Regions from separate parts of the Homo sapiens genome. Here region 1 is linked to region 2. Evidence: fine-mapped expression QTL. Tissue or cell type: blood mononuclear cells. Region 2 holds a variant in brackets; the other region holds the start of a gene. All regions are shown on one strand. Distances are from middle to middle. Region 1 holds the start of TBC1D5 (TBC1 domain family member 5). Region 2 overlaps TBC1D5 (TBC1 domain family member 5).

Region 1 (2,915 bases), 140 kb before region 2:
TTTCCTAGTTTCTCAGAAGCCTCTGTTAATCCTATTTCTTCATATACATTCATCCCAGGATTTTCTGTCATTTTGTTGCTAGCCCCATTTCTTGACTATCATCTCAGTATTCACCAGTCTAACAGTGATGATGACTGGTCTAGCCAGAACTCCCAATTAGGGAGTTTTTACATTTTATTTATTTGATAAATAAATAAATCTGGCCGGATTAAATCTGGCCACAGGCACTAACTTAACCTGTTCAGTTTCTGCAACAGAAAGAGGGGCAACAGAAAAAGAGGGATCTCTGTGTGAAGTGGGGTGTTTGTCCACAAAGGTCTCCCACACAGGCATCTTCCTCTGAAGCTAGATAACCTTCAGAAATCTGACCTTTCTCTGACTTGGTTTCCTTTTCTGGACTAAACAGTATCAATTTTCGTTGGAGCTCTTTGTGAAGATAAGCTAATAAAATACCATAAATCTCTTTTACTAAGTGAAGCATTTACCACTCTAATTAACATTATGATTTAAAGGCTTTCATACTGGGGAAACAAACACCACCTTCCCACGTGCTTGGGTTAAAGGGGATCTTAAATCATGATTATGCAGAGACCAAGGGCAACGATAAAAGTTTTAGACATTCCCTGTGTTCTGATAGTCATCAGACGTTTAGGGAGATACTACAACACTGAAGACCCTGTCCAAGTTTATGAGATAAAGATAGAAACCACAGTCTAGTATTGTGGGCTTGTGAAAAAATAACTCCTAACCTTTATCTTTCTATGGGTTGTACTACAAGGTAGGTCTGCACAAAGTGCTAGTGACTCCTCTAAAGTAGGCAGGGGTAAGTTTCACGGAGAAAGTGACAGATGAGCTGAGTTAGAAGCCTACTCAGCCACAGAAAAATGTGGCATGGAAGGCCATTTACCTGTGACAAGGAAATGTAAATTCCTTGGCAGGAGAGCCAGGATCTCAGGAGAGTCCCTGGGACCCTCTGCTCCCCTTCTCAGTCCAACCCTGGGAAGATAGTTGGTGGATGTGAACCTCTGACTAAGACCCAGGAGCTGGTTCCCAGCCTCCAGCCGCGCGCCGGTTGGAAGCAGGGAGAGAAGGGAGGGGTAAAAGCCCTCAGGCGCATGCGCTCAGCAGCCTGCCGGCTCAGCCAAGGAGAGCTCTGCCCGCGGCTCACTCCCCACCTACTCGCTTCTCGCGCCTCGCGGGCCCCAGAAACCCGGACCCGAGAGCGAGCGCGTTGCGCTCGCGCGCAGACTTCAGGTCCCGTGCGGGCGCCTGCGCACGAGCTTCCCAGGCGCGCGGGCCGCGAGGTTATTAGAGGTGGAGCGCGGGGAGGGCGCGCGGCGGGAGGCGGCCGCCGTTACGGCGCGAGCGTGGTCACGTGGCCGCTGGTCACCGCCGCCACCCCCTCCCGCCCTGTTCTCTTTCAGGTCGGGCCGGGCCCGGCCGCTTCCGCGAGCGCCCTGCAGACTGAGGGAGAGAGAGAGAAAGAGGAGGGGAGGAGGAGGAGGATTCAGGGAATAGGAGCTGGGGAGCCCTTCTGCGCCACAGGTAAAATAAAATAATGATGATGATCGTAAAAAAGCCCAAGCCCTCTGAACGCCTCCGCCTTCCTCCAGTGCAGCCCCACATGCAGTCGTTCCCGCCCCGGCCTCCCACTCAGCCTCAGGACAGGTTTCGCCCCCCTTCGCGCCGCTGCTGCAGCCGCAGCCGCCGCCGCCTTCTCACGGGAGGGCCTGAGGGTGCCGCCGCCACGGCGGACGGGTTGCCGCACCGCCCCCCGTTTGTGCGCCTCGGAGTCGGCGTCGGGGGTGGATGGCGGGAGGGGTGGACCCTTCAGCTCCCTGGCGGGCAGGGCGGGCAGGGCGAGCTGGGCGGGGTGGCTGCTTGCAGTCTGCCTGCTTTCCCTGCCCCAGGAGGTCGGGGTCTAGACTGGAAGGCCAACTGCAGTAAAGGCAGGGCCTGGCGGCTGGACTAGTGCTCAACTTCCTACTTAGTAAATTTCCATGTTCATTTGGGCCCCGGGAAGCACGCTTCCTTCCCTAGCCGGAAGCGAAACGGGCCCTGAATCCTCAAACCTTAATAGTCTTTAGAAGAGAGAAGCCTTGACTTCACTTTTGAGGAAGGGAACCGTGACCTGGATTTAGTACGACTTAAGTTTATTCACACGTAAGAAACGGAGGTCTTTCAGGATAAGAGCAAAAAAAAAAAAAAAAAAAAAAAAAAAAAAATTCGCAGGGAGGGCAAATCCCGCTCCCCACCCCGACTTTTCCTGGAAAAACACACAGACCTTCACTACAAGATTCGATTCTACAAGTGACCTAGAATTTGTTCGATACCAGTTACTCGTTTTAGTTACAGGAATTATAATCTGTGTTTAAAGTTAACATCCTGTAGGTTTTTTTCGAATAATAACTTTCTGGAAAGAGTTCATTTGTCAACTCTGAATTGGACAAAATCCTAAGATTTTAACATGCAGGTTTCACACGTTTGGACCAGGTTGCCTGGAATTTCTAGACCCGGTAATTCTTTTGTAAACCTTTATAAGTGTTGTGCTCTTGCACAAAATACTTAAAGCAGGAAGCAATAAATAGGTATTGTTGAAAAATGAGCCTTTGCTATCGGTGGCAAAGAAATTCATTTATATATTGGTTTTTCTCTTTGGGCTTTTCTGATTCCGTGTCTTGGTACTTTTCATACCATATCTCTGAATTCATTTGTAAACTTGAGCATTTTTAATTTTTACAGCTATCTGCAGTATCACAGAACACTCAAACCTTAATGTGGGTGGGAATCACTTGGGGCTCTTATTAAAAATGCATTTTCTGGTTCAGTAGGCCTATGGTGCATTTTGATATTGTACATTTCTGATAACATGTGCAGCTGGACAAGGGACTATCTTTGAGTAGCAAGGAAGTGGA
Region 2 (2,915 bases):
CTTCGCAATCTCTGAGAACTGCAGGTTTCAAATACAAAAAGAAAATAACATTTATAGTTAGATCCAGGTGTATTAAGTTACCAGAATGAGGACAGAAAGATTGATAATTTGGATTCAAATTTATGTTGAGTTGGAAGTAAAAGCTGGAGGGAGACTGCAAGCTACCACAGGTCATTATATAAAGCTCTAAAAAGGATTTTATTCCAATTTTATTCACTGCTATATAAGGATATTTTTGTTAATTTTTTTTTGCTGTACACATTAGATATTATTGAGAAAATATTTTAAACTGCAATTTGTATTGATGGATTGTATTACGTTCATCTAATACTACCTTTAATTTCTTGTACATAATGAAGGTTTAACAATTATTTTTGGTAAATGGTCATCTGAGTTTTTAGATCATCTTTATTCTATGAGATGTTATCTGCATACTACTTTCAAAGGAGATATTCTGGAAAATCACTGATTTTAATCTAATAGTTACAGCAGATATATATATCTGGTTAGTTTAAACCATGGCTAATTATTCTCTTTGGTAAAATCGAACTAATTATTGTAAAGGAATTTGATTAAGCCATTTCTTATCATTTTTTTCCTCTCATTATGTTGCAAGACCTATCTTGAGCTGGGATTTTCTGTCTTATCTGAAGCTGTTGGTGTGCATCAGGATCGTTTTTTGGGAGTTTTGATATTATTTACTGGCTTTTGGTTATTTGTTGTTGTTGTTGTTGTTTTTCAGTATAGAAATGACCTCTTTGTCAAAGTGTATAATTTGATCCTAACAAAACAATTTTAAAAACCCATGAACTGAACCTTGTAAAGGTTTAATATTATAAAATGCTATATTTAAGTTTTCTCTCCTGAAGGATATTCTCTCATATTTAATTATATTGAATTAAGCATTTCTTATGCTGCTAATTTTTATTTATATATTCTAAAAATTGTTATAAAAAGTCACCAGTATCATTATTACTTTTCTTTTGCATTATCATTAATTACACTATTCTTGCTTTATATATATTACAGATAGCCAAAGGTTTGAGTAAAAGAAAATAAAAATACTTTCTTTTTTTGGACGGGGTTTCACTCTGTTGCCCAGACTGGAGTGCAGTGCAATCACCGCTCACTGCAGCCTCGCATTCCTGGGTTCAAGCAATCCTCCCAATCCTCCCAGCAGCCTCCTGAATAGCTGGAACCCCAGGCGCATGCCACCATGGATGGCTAATTTTTTAATTTTTTTGTGGAGCTGGTGTCACTCTATGTTGCCCAGGCTAGCCTTGAACTCCCTGGGCTCAAGCGATCCTCCCTCCTTGGCTTCCCAACGTGCCTGATATCACAGGCATGAGCCACTGTA[C/T]GCAGCCCTAAAATACTTGTGGTGAAAATATTTTTGGTAAAAATTAGACTCTTCTCAGGAGCTTCTGATTGACTTTATCAGGAGAAGGGGAGGTGTGGGCAGTAGAGTAGTCATGAAATGAGAGACCTACTTTATTTGCGTTCTAGTCTATCACAATTTAGACAGGCCAACTTGCAAAATAAATGTGTCTAGAACTAGAGAGCAAGCTTAAATGATTTATTGATTTTTTTCAGAGTATAATACAGAAGTCAGTAATTTGGTGAATGGGTCTTCATCTTTGTATGAAAAAGTCTATTCAATATTATGAAAACATTTATTACACATAACATAAATATAATTTCTGTATTGCATTATTGGATATTAACAAAGTCTTTATTTCCCCCTTAAACTTAGAAGTCTCATAATATTTGTCGGTCACAATTGAGCATGTTAATATATATGTGTTAATATTTACTGGTATGCTTCCTAAAAATGAAGCATACTTTCCTGATCTTTAATCATAGAAGTAGATAAAATGAAGCTTAGGTGAACTTTGTTTTCCTGCATGATCAAATTTTCTGGTTACTAAAAAAGACTATCCTTTTCCTCTTTTTAAATATTTGTTCCTACTGCCCAAACTCTTTCAAACACAATTTAACGTTTGTGGGATGATTAAATTTGCACTTTAAGTTCTGAAAATCACAGGTGCTGCTGAGCAGCATTCTAGTTGCTAAAAATGCCAGGTTGAACTAGACATTTTTATTACATGTAATTCAACACATTACTTATGACTGAGTTCAGCTAAGATTTGAGGTCCTGAAAAATTGTAGGGTTTTCTGATGTATATGGTCTCTAGGGTATTATAAATTTGCTTGTGTTTGTTTTAATTGTGTGGTTTAGTAAAAGTAGTTAATACTATGTGACTAATACTTATTGTGGCTTAGGAGCTTGACTCCTTTAAAAAAAAACCATGTTGATGAGTCACTCATTCATGCAAAGACAACCTGAGATTGGTGATTGTATGAGTTGGAGAAGGCTTGTCTGTTAGGAAATGCAGCCTAGCTGCTTTGTGAAGAGGAGGTTTTGCTCCAAAGAGAGTTGTTTTTTGTTGAAGAACATTATCCCAGAAGAGAACTGTACCAATGTAAAGATGGATATTTTGGGGATATGGAAGCCTGAGACTAAGTTGAATTCAAAATATCATGGATCTGGCTGGGTGCGGTGGTTCACACGTGCAATCCCAGCACTTTGGGAGGCTGAGGCAGGTGGATCGCTTGAGGCCCGGAGTTGGAGTCCAGCCTGGCCAACATGGTGAAACCCTGTCTCTACTAAAAATACCAAAAATTACCTGGGTGTGGTGGTATGCACCTGTAGTCCCAGGAACTCAGGAGGCTGAGGCATGAGAATTGCTTGAACCCTGGAAGTGGAGGTTGCAGTGAGCACTGAGGTTGCAGTGAGCACTGGGCAACACAGCCAGACTCTGTCTCAAAACCAAACCAAAAAATCATGGTTCTTAGCAAATTGATGGTGAGTAAAGTTATATGTAGTTACATTGTTTCTAGGCACCAAATCTTAATTA

What was found. PIP is the estimated chance that this variant, and not a neighbour inherited with it, causes the effect.
Region 1: TBC1D5 starts here. The variant in region 2 is fine-mapped to the expression of TBC1D5 in blood mononuclear cells (TOPMed, PIP above 0.99). The same link has a PIP of 0.9 or more in T cells and whole blood.

Annotation. Positions count from the first base shown.
Region 1 is chr3:17,741,111-17,744,025 of GRCh38, reverse strand. It overlaps TBC1D5 (TBC1 domain family member 5), which reads left to right and starts at 1,395. Exons shown (of 23, transcript NM_001349074.2): 1 at 1,395-1,545. It overlaps LOC105376975 (a long non-coding RNA gene), which reads right to left and starts at 1,082. Exons shown (of 2, transcript NR_135536.1): 1 at 908-1,082. RefSeq lists enhancers at 979-1,048, 1,006-1,709 and silencers at 1,169-1,478, 1,709-1,908.
Region 2 is chr3:17,604,607-17,607,521 of GRCh38, reverse strand. All of the region lies in intron 2 of TBC1D5 (TBC1 domain family member 5), which reads left to right. Among named protein-coding and RNA genes, the nearest start is that of TBC1D5, 140 kb to the left of the region's middle. The variant C/T (reference allele first, on the strand shown) is at 1,358.